Linked DNA regions of Homo sapiens: all the other regions are linked to region 1. Evidence: fine-mapped expression QTL. A gene starts in region 1. Each other region holds a variant in brackets. All regions are shown on one strand. Distances are between the middles of the regions. Region 1 holds the start of THADA (THADA armadillo repeat containing). Region 2 overlaps THADA (THADA armadillo repeat containing). Region 3 overlaps THADA (THADA armadillo repeat containing).

Region 1 (6,031 bases):
AGCTGCTAGACTGTTTTGGAGAAAAAGGGAATAGATTTATTTGTCTACTACAGACTTTTTTTTTTTTTTTTTTTTTGAGACGGAGTCTTGCTCCTTCGCCCATGCTGGAGTGCAGTGGCGCGATCTGCGCTCACTGCAAGCTCAGCCTCCTGGGTTCAGGCCATTCTCCTGCCTCAGCCTCCCGAGTAGCTGGGACTACAGGCGCCCGCCACCACGCCCGGCTAATTTTTTCTATTTTTAGTAGAGACGGGGTTTCATCATGTTAGCCAGGATGGTCTCGATCTCCTGACCTCGTGATCCACCCACCTCGGCCCCCCAAAGTGCTGGGATTACAGGCGTGAGCCACCGCGCCCAGCCTTAGACTTCTTGTCTTGCTATTAGATTAGTAAAAGTCAGTACAAGCTACAGGGAAACAGATTCCAGATCAATACAAAGGAAAAGCTCTATGGTCCCACTAAGGACTGGGCTACCTTTTAAACAAAGAAATTTTCCAACACCAGGAATATTCAAAGAGAAGATGACTGAATATTTTCTCTTGGACTCCTGAAACAGCTCCCTAACTGGTCTCCTGACTTCTACACTTACCTCCAAAGAGCCCATTCTGTTTACAATCATCAAAGCAATCTCTTTAAAAAAAACTCTCATCAAATTGAATTACTTACTCTCTTCCTTAAAACTTTCCAAGGGTTTCTAAATACACTTAGAATAAAATTCAAACTTGAGGCCAGGAGTGGGGGCTCGTGCCTGTAATCCCAGCACTTTGGGAGGCCGAGGCGGGTGGATCTCCTGAAGTCAGGAGTTCAAGACCAGCCTGGCCAACATGGTGAAACCCCGTCTGCACTAACTAAAAATACAAAAATTAGCCGGGTGTGGTGGCAGGCGCCTATAACCCCAGCTACTCCGGAGGCTGAGGCAGGAGAATGGCTTGAACCCAGGAGGCAGAGGTTGCAGTGAGCCGAGATCGTGCCACTGCACTCCAGCCTGGGAGACAAGAGCGAAACTCCATCTCAAATAAATAAATAAATAAATAAATAAATAAATACTTGAGATTTTGCCCTTCAAGGCCCTAAATAATCTGACCCTGCCTTCCTCCACTCTTCATCTCAAACCAATCTCCTCTTCACCATCTCAAGAGCTTTGTACTTCCTGATGCTCTTATTCCCACCTAAGAGGCTTTACACTTCTCAGTATCTCTGCCCCTTAATGTTCATTCCACATCTTTGCAAGACTGACTCCTTCTCACCATTCATGTTTCTGCTGCAACATTACCTTCTAAAAGCCTTCCATGACCACTCTATCTAAAATCTCACCAATACAACACACGTAGACACCATTTCCGTTAATTTTCTTCATAGCACTTACTAGTACCAGAAATTACCCTAACTTGTAAATTTGTATATTGTCTGTCTCACCTAGTAGCAAACTGAATGAAGGCAGCAACTTTAATCTATTTTGTTCATGTTTCAAGTCTCAATTTCCAAACCAGTGCCTGGCACATAGTAGGTGTTTAACAAACACTTCACGAATAAACAAATTAATTAACAAACATTTGTCAGAGATGTTCTAGAAGGGATATATGTCTTTAAGGGCAGGAAGGTGGACTATCTGGTACCTAAAATGCATTCTACATCTAAGTGACATTCTACATCTTAAGAACCTATGGTCTGTTTGGGAAGTAAGAAATCCATACAGTAATGGCAGGTGAGCAACCACTTAACCAAAAATGGACGCAGCTAGGAAAGTGTCGACAACAGAATAATTTGTAAAGGGATAGTCAGATCTAGAGGAATAGAGGCACGCTTCCTAAGAAAGTGACCATCGTACAAAGCCAGAAGAGACTGGGAAACCTAACTAGGGAGACTATTCTCTGGTGAAAGGTAAGCAAGTTTGCAGGAGGATTTGCTCTTGCAATTCTGAGGGCTACACAAAAGCAGACTCGGTAATTATGCCTGCTCAAATGATGCCTAAACGTGTGTCCTGAAGAACCAGGGTCCCCAAGGGGGTAAATCCCGTGTCTACCGCAAGGCCAGAAGGTGCCCAGTAAATTACACTCCTCCTAGGTCCCACTTACTGCTTCCCTTTAGAACGCTGCTTCACTCTACACCTTCCTGGCTGACTCCCACAAACATTCTCTGGGCGATTTCTGAACCACGTGGAGTCGAGGAATGACAGTGGGAGAAAGTGGTTAAAGTGCTGTCTCCATGGAGACCTTAGCGACCGGAAATCAGTTTCACAGCCGCCGAATCCTGGCGATACCAAAGGATGGGAATTGGTGTGGCTCGCCAGGCAGCCCTAGCAAAACTGGCCGAGCCGAGCTACCGCGGGTCTGGCAGGCAGGACACCTGGGAGCCAAACCTCGTGCACGTCGGCGTCTGAGAAGAGTCGCAGGCGCCTGGTCCAGTCCCGGAAGCAGGTCTCCTTCTACGGCGTCTCCGAGGCTCGCAGCGCGGTCCACGGTCGACTACCGGGTCAGGGCAAAGGGAGGGAGAGAGGGGTAACCTGGAGGAGTCATCGCGAGAATTGACCAAACGCAGCTCCTCCAATCAGGAGTTCGAGGAGGTCGTGACGTCACCGGGGTGGCCGGTAGCAATCCGGTTTAGTTAACCAGCCACTGTACCGTCAGCGCCGCGCGTTCCTCATGGCGTTAGGGCTGACGGGCCTTGTTGCTGAGGGGCCTTCATTCAACGGTCTCTTGTTGAATGAAAAGACCTCATTCTCTTCACATGCTTGGACGCCTGGGAAGCGCTTTTCTCCCAATCCAGACCTTCCACCTTTCTCCCACTCTGTTGGCCCAGTGCAGAGTCTAGGAGAAAACTACGTCTGGGACTCGGGAACGAGTCCAGGGAGTTTAGAGCCTGCGAGATGGGGCAGGGGTTTGGGCGGCGACTGAACGGAAGCCACGAGAAGGATTCGGACTAAAATGAGTAGTGCTGAACCAACGTGTGCCAAAGCGCATATATTCATTCAATAGATAATGAACTCTACTGTCAGAGCGTCGCCAAGCGCTAGCCTTGAAAGCTATCCCCTACTGAGGATACATGTATTACGCAGCACATACAAATTGTCAGATGGTTCAGTCCTTGAAAAATAAATACAATAACGGGGTGTCACTGGGAGCTGCGACAGTGGGCAAGATCAGGAAAGACCTGATGCTATTATCAGGAGTATTAATTTGGAAAATAGAGACATTTCAGTTCTCTAAACGTTAATGACTTAAGTTTTTAATAATTATTTTCTGAATTTTTTATATCAGCTTGCCTTGGTTTTCTTTATAGCTTTACCACATAATGTATGTATCACTATCTTGTTTCGTTCAATTTTGAAGCTTTTGGAATTGCGTATGTATTCTCCAGCAATTTGCTTCTTTCAGCATTGCTTTTCATATTCACCTACAGGTGGCTGTAGTGCTCTTCGCCCAGGCTGGAGTGCAGTGGCGCGATCTCGGCTCACTGCAAACTCTGCCTCCCGGGTTCAAGTGATTCTCCTGCCTCAGCCTCCTAAGTAACCGGGATTACAGGCGCGCGCCACCACGCTCAGCTAATTTTTGTATTTTTTAGTGGAGACGGGGTTTCACCATGTTGCTCATGCTGGTCTTGAACTCCTGACCTCGTGATTCGCCCGCCTCGGTCTCCAAAAGTGCTGGGATTACAGGCGTGAGCCATGGCGCCCGGACCGTAATTTTCCATTGTTTAATATACTTCATTATGTATCCATCCTGCTGCCTCTTAACATGTGCATTATTTCCAGTTTTTGTTCTAAACATTGCTGCTGTGAACTATGTTGTGCATGTCAGCTGGTGAGTGTGTGCAGACGGTTCTCCACCATAATTTTTTCTGGTATTTTTGACCCTGACATAGTAAGAAATACATTGCAGACTTTGAAACTGTGGACGTAGAAGTACTCACACATAACTGAAGTAAAAATTTCTTGAAATGCTACTTTACAGGAGCTGTGAGATTTTATTTCCTTTTTTTCTAAATTATGGTAAAATACACAGCAAAATTTACCATTTTAACCATTTTTAAGTTTTATGTTTTTTAAAATATGTATATTGTTTCAGACCTACTAATTATATAACTCAGTGGGTCCGAACCCCTTTTTTGTTGGCAGACACTGCAACTCTTCACCCTGCACAGCGAGAGGTGGGCTAGGGAGCAAACATAATAAACATATGTTGAAAGGTGAAGCTACTGTTAAAACTTCAGACAAATTAAACTTAACAGGGTTTAATTGAGCAAGGGGAAAAATGATTCTCAAATCGGGCAGTCTCCAGAATCATAGCAGATTCAGAGAGACTCCAGGGATGCCTCGTGGTCAGAGCACATTTACAGACAAAGAAAGGAAAGTGATGTACAAAAAGCAAGTGAGGTACGGAAGCAGCTGGATGGGTTACAGCTTGGCATTTGCCTTACCTGAACACAGTTTGAACAGTAAGCATTGTATGAATAGTTGAAGTATGGCTGCTGGGATTGGCTGAAACTCAGCTATTGTTACAGAAGCACACTCCTAAATTAGGCTTTCAGTCTTGTCTACCTACTAAGTTAGGTTATGGTTCATCCACAAGGACTCAAATATGGAAGTGCAGAGGCTTTCTCAGGCGGTATTTAGTTCAATTTAACACCGCCATGGAAAAAATAGGGGAATGGAAAGTGAGAGTATAGGGGAGGTACATTGCAACTTTAAATAGGGTAATCAGGGTAGGCCTCACTGAGTAAAGATTTCCAAGAGACATAGACACTTGGTGAAGGGGAAACCTTCCATACAGAGGGAACAGCCAGTACAAAGTTTCCAGGGCAGGGCTTGCCTGCTGGGAGAATAGCAAGGAGGCAAGAGTGGCCGGAGCCAAGCAAGGTAAATACTAAGGAGTGGGACAAGGGGCTTTGGATTATATAAGGCTTTCACATTATTTCATGGACTCTTTCATGAAATGAGGAGTGATTTTGAGCAAAAGAATAATAACATCTAATGTACATTTCAAAATAATCACTGGAGCTACTTTGTTAAGAAGAGACTGTAGGTCGGACGCGGTGGCTCACGCCTGTAATCCCAACGCTTTGGGAGGCTGAGGCGGGTGGATCACCTGAGCTCAGAAGTTCAAGACCACCCTGGGGAACATGGTGAAACCTCGTCTCTACAAAAATGCAAAAAAAAAATTAGCTGGGCATGATGTTGTGTGCCTGTAGTCGCAGCTACTCGGGAGGCTGAGGCACGAGAATTGCTTGAGCCCCAGAGGCAGAGGTTGCAGTGAGCTAGCATTGCGCCACTGCACTCCAGCTTGAGCTGCAGAGTGAGACTCCGTCACAAAACAGAAAAAAAAATAAAAGACTGTAGAGCCTGCAGGAAGCCCAGTGAGGCTGTTGTGGTAAACTAGGCAGGCAGGATGCTGGTGGCACTGACCAGGGTGGTAGCAGTGGAGAGCGGGAAGTGGACAGGTTTTGGATATAATTTGAAAGCAGAGCTAACAGGATTTTTTTCTGAAGGATAGAATATGGGTATGAAGAAATGAAGAGTCAAAGATGAGTCCAAAGTTTCTGGCCTGAGCACCTAGAAGGATGAAGTTGCCAAAGTTTACTTGGAGCAGATTTGAATGGGTTTAAAAGAGACTGGGAAGAGAGGAATTGGCAAGATCAAGCAGAGGCAACTCCTTCTAGTCCTTCTAGTACGCAAGGGGCAGATAAATGGAATGGTAACACCTAGAGGAAGTATACTGCCAAAAGCAATCTACAAATCCAATGCAATCCCCATCGAAATACCACCATTATTCCTCACAGAATTAGAAAAAACAATGCTAAAATTCATATGGAACAAAAAAAGAGCCCGCATAGCCAAAGCAAGACTAAGCAGAAATAACAAATCTGGAGGCATCACACTACCTGATTTCAAACTATGCTATAAGGCCATAGTCACCGAAACAGCATAGTACTGGTATAAAAATAGGCACATAGACCAATGGAACAGAATAGAGAACCCAGAAATAAACCCAAATACTTATGGCCAACTGAGCTTCGACAAAGCAAACAAAAACCTAAAG
Region 2 (6,031 bases), 48 kb before region 1:
TCTTTTTCTATTGATTGGAATAGTTTCAGAAGGAATGGTACCAGTTCCTCCTTGTACCTCTGGTAGAATTCGGCTGTGAATCCATCTGGTCCTGGACTCTTTTTGTTGGTAAGCTATTGATTATTGCCACAATTTCAGAGCCTGCTATTGGTCTATTCAGAGATTCAAGTTCTTCCTGGTTTAGTCGTGGGAGGGTGTATGTGTCGAGGAATTTATCCATTTCTTCTAGATTTTCTAGTTTATTTGCGTAGAAGTGTTTGTAGTATTCTCTGATGGTAGTTTGTATTTCTGTGGGATCGGTGGTGATATCCCCTTTATCATTTTTTATTGCGTCTATTTGATTCTTCTCTCTTTTCTTCTTTATTAGTCTTGCTAGTGGTCTATCAATTTTGTTGATCCTTTCAAAAAACCAGCTCCTGGATTCATTAATTTTTTGAAGGGTTTTTTGTGTCTGTATTTCCTTCAGTTCTGCTCTGACTTTAGTTATTTCTTGCCTTCTGCTAGCTTTTGAATGTGTTTGCTCTTGCTTTTCTAGTTCTTTTAATTGTGATGTTAGGGTGTCAATTTTGGATCTTTCCTGCTTTCTCTTGTGGGCATTTAGTGCTACAAATTTCCCTCTACACACTGCTTTGAATGTGTCCGAGAGATTCTGGTATGTTGTGTCTTTGTTCTCGTTGGTTTCAAAGAACATCTTTATTTCTGCCTTCATTTCGTTATGTACCCAGTAGTCATTCAGGAGCAGGTTGTTCAGTTTCCATGTAGTTGAGTGGTTTTGAGTTTCTTAATCCTGAGTTCTAGTTTGATTGCACTGTGGTCTGAGAGACAGTTTGTTATAATGTCTGATCTTTTACATTTGCTGAGGAGAGCTTTACTTCCCACTACGTGGTCAATTTTGGAATAGGTGTGGTGTGGTGCTGAAAAAAATGTATATTCTGTTGATTTGGGGTGGAGAGTTCTGTAGATGTCTATTAGGTCCGCTTGGTGCAGAACTGAGTTCAATTCCTGGATATCCTTGTTAACTTTCTGTCTCGTTGATCTGTCTAATGTTGACGGTGGGGTGTTAAAGTCTCCCATTATTATTGTGTGGGAGTCTAAGTCTCTTTGTAGGTCACTCAGGACTTGCTTTATGAATCTGGGTGCTCCTGCATTGGGTGCATACATATTTAGGATAGTGAGCTCTTCTTGTTGAATTGATCCCTTTACCATTATGTAATGGCCTTCTTTGTCTCTTTTGATCTTTGTTGGTTTAAAGTCTGTTTTATCCGAGACTAGGATTGCAACCCCTGCCTTTTTTTGGTTTCCATTTGCTTGGTAGATCTTCCTCCATCCTTTTATTTTGAGCCTATGTGTGTCTCTGCACATGAGATGGGTTTCCTGAATACAGCACACTGATGGGTCTTGACTCTTTTATCCAATTTGCCAGCCTGTGTCTTTCAATTGGAGCATTTAGTCCATTTACATTTAAAGTTAATATTGTTATGTGTGAATTTGATCCTGTCATTATGATGTTAGCTGGTTATTTTGCTCGTTAGTTGATGCAGTTTCTTCCTAGCCTCAATGGTCTTTACAATTTGGCATGATTTTGCAGTGGCTGGTACCGGTTGTTCCTTTCCATGTTTAGTGCTTCCTTCAGGAGCTCTTTTAGGGCAGGCCTGGTGGTGACAAAATCTCTCAGCATTTGCTTGTCTGTAAAGTATTTTATTTCTCCTTCACTTATGAAGCTTAGTTTGGCTGGATATGAAATTCTGGGTTGAAAATTCTTTTCTTTAAGAATGTTGAATATTGGCCCCCACTCTCTTCTGGCTTATAGAGTTTCTGCCGAGAGATCCGCTGTTAGTCGGGCTTCCCTTTGTGGGTAACCCGACCTTTCTCTCTGGCTGCCCTTAACATTTTTTCCTTCATTTCAACTTTGGTGAATCTGACAATTATCTGTCTTGGAGTTGCTCTTCTCAAGGATTATCTTTGTGGCGTTCTCTGTATTTCCTGAATCTGAATGTTGGCCTGCCTTGCTAGATTGGGGAAGTTCTCCTGGATAATATCCTGCAGTGTTTTCCAACTTGGTTCCATTCTCCCTGTCACTTTCAGGTACACCAATCAGACATAGATTTGGTCTTTTCACATAGTCCCATATTTCTTGGAGGCTTTGTTCATTTCTTTTTATTCTTTTTTCTCTAAACCTCCCTTCTCGCTTCATTTCATTCATTTCATCTTCCATCACTGATACCCTTTCTTCCAGTGGATTGCATCGGCTCCTGAGGCTTCTGCATTCTTCACGTAGTTCTCGAGCCTTGGCTTTCAGCTCCATCAGCTCCTTTAAGCACTTCTCTGTATTGGTTATTCTAGTTATACATTTGTCTAAATTTTTTCAAAGTTTTCAACTTCTTTGCCTTTGGTTTTAATTTCCTCCTGTAGCTTGGAGTAGTTTGATCATCTGAAGCCTTCTTCTCTCAACAAGTCAAAGTCATTCTGCGTCCAGCTTTGTTCCGTTGCTGGTGAGGAGCTGCATTCCTTTGGAGGAGGAAAGGCACCCTGCTTTTTAGAGTTTCCAGTTTTTCTGCTCTGTTTTTTCCCCATCTTTGTGGTTTTATCTACTTTTGGTCTTTGATGATGGTGATGTACAGATGGGTTTTTGGTGTGGATGTCCTTTCTGTTTGTTAGTTTTCCTTCTAACAGACAGGACCCTCAGCTGCAGGTCTGTTGGAGTTTGCTAGAGGTCCACTCCAGACCCTGTTTGCCTGGGTACCAGCAGCGGTGGCTGCAGAACAGCGGATTTTTGTGAACCGCGAATGCTGCTGTCTGATCGTTCCTCTGGAAGTTTTGTCTCAGAGGGGTACCCGGCCATGTGAGGTGTCAGTCTGCCCCTACTGGGGGGTGCCTCCCAGTTAGGCTGCTCAGGGTTCAGGGGTCAGGGACCCACTTGAGGAGGCAGTCTGCCCGTTCTCAGATCTCCAGCTGTGTGCTGGGAGAACCGCTGCTCTCTTCAAAGCTGTCAGACAGGGACATTTAAGTCTGCAGAGGTTACTGCTGTCTTTTTGTTTGTTTGTGCCCTGCCCCCAGAGGTGGAGCCTACAGAGGCAGGCAGGCCTCCTTGAGCTGTGGTGGGCTCCACCCAGTTCGAGCTTCCTGCCTGCT[T/A]TGTTTACCTAAGCAAGCCTGGGCAACGGTGGGCGCCCCTCCCCCAGCCTCGATGCTGCCTTGCAGTTTGATCTCAGACTGCTGTGCTAGCAATCAGCGAGACTCCGTGGGCGTAGGACCCTCTGAGCCAGGTGCGGGATATAATCTCCTGGTGCGCTGTTTTTTAAGCCCGTCGGAAAAGTGCAGTATTAGGATGGCAGTGACCCGATTTTCCAGGTACCGTCTGTCACCCCTTTCTTTGACTAGGAAAGGGAACTCCCTGACCCCTTGCGCTTCCCAAGTGAGGCAATGCCTCGCCCTGCTTCGGCTCGCGCATGGTGCGCTGCACCCACTGTCCTGCGCCCACTGTCTGGCACTCCCTAGTGAGATGAACCCGGTACCTCAGATGGAAATGCAGAAATCACCCGTCTTCTGCGTCACTCCCGCTGGGAGCTGTAGACTGGAGCTGTTCCTATTCGGCCATCTTGGCTCCACCCCCCTGGTAAAAGTCTTATAAATCCATTCCTAAACCCAAATCTTTCCCAAAACAAAATTTTTAAAAAACTTTATTTTCTAGAAATGTTCTGCACAGATTTGCAACCTCTAATTTACCATATAAAAAGGGCATTCTGTACATTTTACTGGTTACTTAAACATGAATTACAGTATCCATTTTATACAAGTTACCTTTGATTTCTGTAGAAGTATCAATATTCACCACACTAGCATTCAAGTCCTTCATATCAAAGCTATCATGTTCTTTCAATATTTTGGCTTGGTTAAAATAATCATTAGTATCTCGAGGCTGAATCTCATTCAGAATCATCTGTAAGCGGCTTGCTGACTCTGAGGGAAAGAAATGAGCGTACATGAAACCCAGTAACACATCACATGCCAGATTTCCCTTGGGGATGCTTACTCAAAAAATCTATAATTTTCAATACTTAATAATCAGCTTTATTAGAAGGGACTCACAAGGTGGATAATATGAAAATTATTTATACAGTTTTCATGATGCTTGAGTGCATTTTTAAAATATGGCAATTTAGACTGAAATATAACAACAAAAAAAACTCACTGAAACTGTCCACAGGACAAAGGCCACCATGTCATCTACACTGCTTTTCTTAGTGTTGTCTAAATATCTCAAATATGGTGCTAATCATGTCAAAGAAGTGCAATAAACTTCAATAAATTTAGTTTTAAGAGGCTATTTCTCTATGAAAGAAAAATGAAGCAGGCAACAGAAAAGTAGAAAAAAATCAATATTTGATTTAAAATATAAATAAATATAAAAAATAGAAAATAGATTATTTCCCCATCATAATACAAGGTATCAAAGTTTAAAGATAGAAAGGTAAAAAGACATTTTTAAAAACCCATCAACAGCAAAAACAATCTTTTATAGGACAGGAATATCGTAACGACTCCACAACTTTGAAACACATTATGTAATATACTGCTTTCTAATTATGATTTACAGTCTTCATATTACATTAAGTTTCATTTTTATTCCCTAAGCACTCACTGGATTAGGAAATGTAAGCTCCATGAATGCAACACTTTGTTCATTACTGAGTGACGAGTGCCTATAACAGAAACTGGCTCACAGCAGAGGTTCAGGAACATGAGTTGAAGGAATGAATGGATGTAGGTAGTAAGGAGTTAGCCAGGCTCAGATTTTCAAAACTAGCCATTGGTAATCATCTGAAATCAATTAACAAATCGAAGAACCGGTATTTATTGTACATCTATTATTTTGACTTATATTTAGGTACTATGGGAAATACAAACACGCAAATTACTATCATGATGATTCAATCAACATCTTATGTTCCTTCCTGGAATTTTGTCAAAAATAAATTTCAACAGCCATGAAAAACTAACAATGACCCCAAAAGAAACCACGCAAAGACCAAGAAAAGATCAGAGAATAAATTTTTAAGAATCCTATCCATTCAATTTTACAGCTTTCAGGGGAGACTTTCCTCATGCAATTCAGAATGTATGGCAGATAACACAGGGAAGAAGCAGCAAAAATGAAGACAACCAGAGGTAAAAAGACAGGCAGAATGAAGGAAAAGTCTGTGGGGCAAAGACAGTTTTTGAGACCAACTGATACCTTAAAACTCTTCACTAATAAAGATAATGTTAGCATCCTCTGTAGGATCTACCCACAGTAGGTAACAGAAATATTCAAGATTTCTCATCCAGAATATATGGGTACTTTGCTGACCCAAATATTAGCTATAAGATTGCATGTTCCTTATTCTTATGCACTGCTCAAGTAGAAAATCTAAAGCGACAAAATTTAGTATTTAAGGCCAGCACAGTGGCTAAGGCCTGTAATCCCAATGCTTTAAGAGGCCAAGGCAGAAGGATTGCTTGACAAGAGCAGCCTGCACAACACAGGAAGATCCCATCTCTACCAAAAAAAAATTAATTAAATAAAATAATTTGGTATTTAGACTAACAACAGGCTAAATAAATGTGTCTTACTATCGTGAACCATCACCAATCTTCTAACTCATTTTTAGGAAAGAACAAAACCTAATATTCTCTGTGCAAAACACATAACTCCACATTACCTTAATTATCAGCCCAAGGTATTTCAGCATATGGTTCAGTGAGTGTTTATGATACAGTCAGTTTTTCTAATACAAGCCTCTCTTTGCACTCTAAAATACATTTACAAACTTTATTTCAACACCAAACATAAATATATTTCATGATTTTTCTGTGTATTAAAAGGAACACTCAATTTTAGCACAGGTTAAGCATCCCTTATCTGAAATGCCTGGGACCAAAAACGTTCTCAATTTATTTTTTTGAATATTGGAATATCTGCATTGTACTTAATGGCTGAGGAGCCCTAATCTGAAAATCCAAAATACAGATGCTCCAATAAGCATTTCTTTTG
Region 3 (6,031 bases), 210 kb before region 1:
TTTATTGGTTGGGAACCACCAAACAAATCCCTTCACATTATGGGACCACATACCATCAGATATTTTACAGGGATTCTAGGAAATGACAAAAGCCTGACAGTGTACCCACGGTGAGATGTTTTGTTGTGTTGCATAATTTTTAAAGTATATTCAGAATTATCGTCAGTCATATGAAGTCTCAGACAGTAAGAGTGGAATGGCTCGCAGGGGATGGAAAGCATATCTTCCAAGATGAAAAAAAAACTTGGAATGTGCTAGATTAATCTATCTAGGAGGATCCTGTATCTCCTTTCACTTTATGAACTTCAAATTTCTCCCTTCCCATGATAAAAGAGTCCTTTGTCTCAGACAGTGTGAGACACTGATTCCTCAAGTTTCCAGTGGGATCTGAGGGAGAGGATGTAATTCAAAACAAAACAGGTGCAAGGAATAACAACCTGATAGGCAAGAACTCTGCCCTTAAAAATTTGAGCTAATCTCAGCTCTTATAATCTTTAACATGATCTACAGGAAGGCAGAGAACACAGTGACTGACCGGAGGAACCTCTCTGTGAAATATGATAACACATAAAGTCAAAATTGCTGAAAATGGACTTATTTGTCTCATGCACTCACACATCAATAGGAATCCTCATGTTTTACAGTATTATTTCAATGTACAACATTAATTTTTTTAAACACATTTTTCTTTAGCTCAAGGTCTTTTACTCACCATCTACACCAGTGATTCTTACATTTTTAATCATAACCCCCTCACCCCCCGCCCGTAGCAGTGGTGGTGGCAGTAGCAGCAAGTATTAATAATAGCAACTAACATTTACTGAGCATTTACTATATACCAGAGACCTTGCTACCCACTTCCCGCATATTAACTCATTTAATCTTCGCAGCCACCCTATGAGGTCATTTTATTTTCCCATTTACAGAAGAAGTGGAGGCACAGAAATTAAGTAACTCACCCAAAATAACACAGCTAGTAAGCAGCAGAGCTAGGATCCAGAGGGAGACAAGCTGGCTCCAGAGTCCACTCTTACCTACTACCTGAAAGGACCTTTCTGAGCACATGCTCCCAGCTTTTGTGTACTTATTAACTTAGAAATTATATATTATTCTATTAATACATTATGTACATTACATATCAAATGTAAAATAATAGCTAAAAGCCAGGTACACCTGTAGTCCCATCTACTCTGGAGGCTGAGGCAGGGGGACCACTTGAGCCTAGGAGCTCAAGGCCAGCCTATGCACCATAGCGATACCCTAGTCTCTAACAATAACCATAATAATAATAAAACAGGATGCGATAAAAGAAATAACACACTAACGTATTCTTCCACATATATTATTGTCTTGCAAACCCCACTTTGAAGGCTACAGGCCTACAGAGCCCAAACTGCTTGGCCCGGCATTTGTGGTCTCTCACATGCTGACCTGCACCCACCCTGCCATTCACACATCCTCTCTCCTTGACACAACAGGCTGGTTTACTCACTGCCTCCTGCAAACACTTTCTGATGCCCTCCTCCATGCCTGGGCTCATACCATGTCCCTTGCCTCAAAAACAGAAAGCTAGTTTCAAGGTTTATCCCAAGGCCCAATGTTCCCCTGAAGCCTTCTCTCATGTCTCCAGTCCATCCTGGTCTTGCCTCTCAGATGTGTGATCTCGGCCACATGCTTGGTGCACATAACATGTAGCCACGTATTTCTGTGTAATTGTCTGCAGTGTCAATGGTTTATTTTCCAGGTAGCTCATAAGCTTCTTGAGAGCAGAGAATATGCTATAAATTTTCTTTGTATCCTCCACAGTACCTGACATAGTATGTACTTAACTTCTCAATAAATATTTGCTAAGCAGAAGAATAAACATTCTCCACATTTACTCTACATCTCTAAGGCCCAGGTCCAGAGGGTTAAGGTAAAGGTCATACCAGAAAGCAGAGGAAGTAATATGATGGATACTTTGCTCTTTGCCTAAGCTCATCAGAACCATGACAGACTGACGGTATTCACGGTGATTCCAGAAGAAAAGGGTTTCAGAGTCCCCAGCAGTCCTGGCATCTATAGTATGACCACCTCGCTTTAGGGAGCTCTTAAGTTTCTAAAGTAATGGCATCCTTCCTGGCCTTGTTTATCCACTACTGCCCACTCTGTTGGCACTTTCCTATGGGTAAAGATAGTCTCAAACATGCAGTTGGTATACCTGCTTACAAATGTCTGCAGCCAGCACAGTTTCAGAAGAAAATATGTCTACCCTTTACCTTTATTCAAAAAATAAGAAAGTTTTCCCATGTCTTGTGATAGAATTTTGCTCAAACGTTTCCAATGACGACTATTCTGACATGCCAACTGCCCTCCTCTCCTATCTATTCCTGATTCCCCTTAGCCTACTCTACTTGTTCCTTTGTCC[G/A]CAGCAACGATTACCTTCTAACAAACTATCTAATTTACCTATTATATTTACTATAATAAGTTCTGATATGTTTTATTGAATGTTTATTTCTTGAACATTTCTTACTGTCTCCCTGCTGCTGGAATATAAGTACACTGAGAGCAGTAATCTTGGAGGGCAAGGATGTGTCTCTTCTGTTCTCTGATATAGTCCAAGCACCCAGAACAGTGCCTGGCACGTAGCTGGTGTTCAATTAGCAGTTGTCGAATGAATAAATAGATGACATCAAATCCCATTTTACCCACAACCCGAAGGCCCCAGATAGAATCCTTCTCCCCTGACAATATTCCTTTTCCTCATCCAGAGAAGCAGTATACTACAGTGGCTAACTGCACAAGCTCAAAAGCTTCAAACGATCCTGGGCTTGAATCTCAGTTTTGCTTTTTACCATTTAATCTTGCATAACTTTAGTGAAATCGCACAACCCCTCTTGTTTTCAGTTTTCTCACCAGTAGGATGGGAATAACACCTATCCTCCAGAAGAGGCTCTGTAGGAACTCAGTGACTGGTACATCACACTCACACACATACATCACATACACACACACTCTATCTCTCACTGAAAAAAATATATATTTTTCCTCTTTTTGCTATTAATTCCCCTACTCTGATCCTGAACAGTTACAAACACCTGAGGACACATCAAATGGCAAATCTCTAAGTTTCACTTGCCCCTGACTGATACTCTGAGTTCTGAGCACTTCAAAACAGCAGTACATTGCTTGGGGAACAACCACACAGTGCAGTACAGTCAATGCTCCAGAACCTGGCAGCTAAAAGCTGTCTCCAACACCCAGCAAAAGCTCCCTAAGTAACAGACACCAAATAAAAGCTTTTGGATGTTTATAAGGAAGGGATTAATTCATCTTCAAAAGTAGCATTTTAATTAAAAATGACTTTTTTGGGCTTATATCCAGAAAGGAATATATTGCCAAAAGGTAAGATTTAACAAGGTTTAGTCCTTTCTTTAGTTTTTTTTTTAAGAGCCCAATGCTTCCCAATCCTTTTCACATCAAGGCACACATAGAAAGTAATCTTTCTTTGGCACTCTGGGATAAAACCAACGATGCTGCTCCCAGCTGCAGGTGACTGCCTAGAGGCTCCAGCCCTGCCAGGCCACACTCAAGACTCCCTGAGAGCTGAAGGAATCAATAAATACCTTGGCACATCCATAGCCACGCCACTGGAGAAACTCTGCCTTAACCCTTCTTGGACTAGGGACCTTTCTAGCAACTTAAGATTTTTCTCCTTTCACACTAACACAAGTCTTCAAAAAGAAAGAATAAATCTGGCCACCTGACAAGAGTGAGCATTTTCTTTAAATTATGACTCATTCCAGAAAAAAAGCACACAGACCAGAAATCCATTTATAACTTACAGCATCAGCATAGTTTCATGCTTTTGTTTTTGATTTTCCATTCTGAAATAATATTTTCGAGGCATAAAACAAACAACAATGGAGACGGCCAACATCTTAGGTCGCCAAATGGAATCTATCAAGAAATGTTCCATTTCTGGACAGCTGGACCGTTTTATGTTTCACAATTTTGTAGTTTTAAGAAATATAAATGACATTAAAATTCTTAAAGCACTAAGACATTGACTCATATGGTTACATTTTTAAAAGATGGAAATAATTCTTTTATATTTAATCACAAGTTTTGATGTAACAGTAATATTAACAGAAATATATATACATATCTTTTCTATAAATGTTCATTTGCTTCCTTATTTAAGAAACTCCAGTAGAGTTGACACTTAAGGTTACCTCTATCACTGATTTTCTACTTGCTTCCACTGCTCCTGTCTGTAGAATAGAGTGAAGGATGGTTGGTTCCATCCCTGCTTCTTGCACAGTGATTCCTTCATACAACTAGCTGGCCGAACTAGCCTACCTTTACTTCTTTCTTTGTTTTCTGGTTTTCTTCCCGTAAAGGTAATGCTAAAGTCTACTCCAGTTTCGGTCTTCATGTGTCCCATCCAGCCCAACACTACTGTTCCCATCACGTAAAGATTCTGGCTCTACAGTAAACACAGAATCTATTGGGGTGCTCCAGACTCAAGCAGAAATGGCCTCAGTTTCAGTCTCCTTTTATGCCTGATGCCCTGTCTGGCATTGTATCTTCTGTCTCCTCTTCATTTCTGTTACTCATATGATCCCTGGTCCCCGAGGGCTCACTTGGCTTCTAATCCACAGCTCTCTTTAAGTTTGCATCAAAGGCAAACTCCTTGTGTTTTCACCAGTGCCTAGGACAGGGTAAGCAAGCTACAGTGTCTGCTGAATTAAATTCAGTCTTGACCACCTTCTCATGGTCCTATCAGTTCCTAGATCTAGGATCCATAACTCCTATGGTTACCCAAGTTTGAGAGGTTTTGTCAAACCCTTAAGGATGACAGAAGGTGGGGCAACTATGGACTTGGCTATAGCCTAGGTCCCAAGGGAGGATCTGTATTTCCAGATACAGATTTAGTAGCATTAAATGGAAGACCAAAGAGAAATGATGACAGAGAGATGAGTAGAGAGGGGAGGGTACAATATACCTTTCACGGGTCGCAGCTTCCCTGGGTTTCACTGACTTCTTCTGTCTCAATAACACAAATAGATTTACTTTGTTTCCACTGTATCATAACATACCCAATTAGATTTAAGGAGAGCAACTGAGTGATAAAGTATATCTTTAGATGGATCCTTGGTTTATTTTCCTTAGCCATAAAAAGCTGTTATTCACATCAGAGGCAGCACATTCTAAAGAAAATAGGAACACAGGCTTTAGAGTTTAATATGTTATCTCAGCCGGGTGCGGTGGCTCACGCCCGTAATCCCAACACTTTGGGAGGCCGAGGTTGGGGGGATCACTTGAAGTCAGGAGTTCAAGACCAGTCTGGCCAACATGGTGAAACCCAGTCTCTACTAAAAATACAAAAATTGGCCAGCCGTGGTGGCAGGCGCCTGTAATCCAAGCTACTCGGGAGGCTAAGGCAGGAGAATTGCTTAAACCCAGAAGGCAGAGGTTGCAGTGAGCCAAGATGGTGCCACTGCATTCCAGCCTAGGCAACAGAGCGAGACTCCGTCTTAAAAAAAAAAAAAAAAGAGCTAAATTAAGAGCAACAGATCACCTTTTATTTGTACATAACAACAACAACAACAACAAAAGACCCAAAATAGACAAGAAATGAAAAAACTGAAAATTCAAACTCTTATTTCAAATGGTATACATTTTCTTATGAATCACCCAAAATGTGAGTTAAGTACCCAAGAATCAGAATAAACCCTTCCTCATGATTGGTGGCCAAGCTCCTCCTCAATATAAGATTTTCTGAACTCCAATATGATTTCTTGAGAGTGATAAGTAACCTAGTAATAATGTTAAGTCCCCAACATGAAGAGTTCTGGCAACAAAAACAGAAGGTTAAATCTACTTAAAAGACAGAGCAGCCCTGCTAGTGATGTTCCCAAATGAGGTAATGTCCATGGCTCTTATCTAGCCTTTATTGAGATTTAATGTCATTTACCCCTGGCTCTCATGAATCTGCCGCATAACCTCACCTTTTCTAATGTGTGTTACTTATAACCATCTCAACACA

The links. PIP is the estimated chance that this variant, and not a neighbour inherited with it, causes the effect.
Region 2: its variant is the best candidate, but not a certain one, in a credible set for the expression of THADA in whole blood (INTERVAL, PIP 0.81).
Region 3: its variant is the best candidate, but not a certain one, in a credible set for the expression of THADA in whole blood (INTERVAL, PIP 0.61).

Annotation. Positions count from the first base shown.
Region 1 is chr2:43,593,576-43,599,606 of GRCh38, forward strand. It overlaps THADA (THADA armadillo repeat containing), which reads right to left and starts at 2,463. Exons shown (of 38, transcript NM_022065.5): 1 at 2,356-2,463.
Region 2 is chr2:43,545,412-43,551,442 of GRCh38, forward strand. It overlaps THADA (THADA armadillo repeat containing), which reads right to left. Exons shown (of 38, transcript NM_022065.5): 20 at 3,799-3,957. Among named protein-coding and RNA genes, the nearest start is that of THADA, 48 kb to the right of the region's middle. The variant T/A (reference allele first, on the strand shown) is at 3,133.
Region 3 is chr2:43,388,187-43,394,217 of GRCh38, forward strand. The region is part of intron 29 of THADA (THADA armadillo repeat containing); the gene reads right to left. Among named protein-coding and RNA genes, the nearest start is that of LINC01126, 160 kb to the left of the region's middle. RefSeq lists silencers at 3,067-3,116, 3,157-3,256. The variant G/A (reference allele first, on the strand shown) is at 2,408.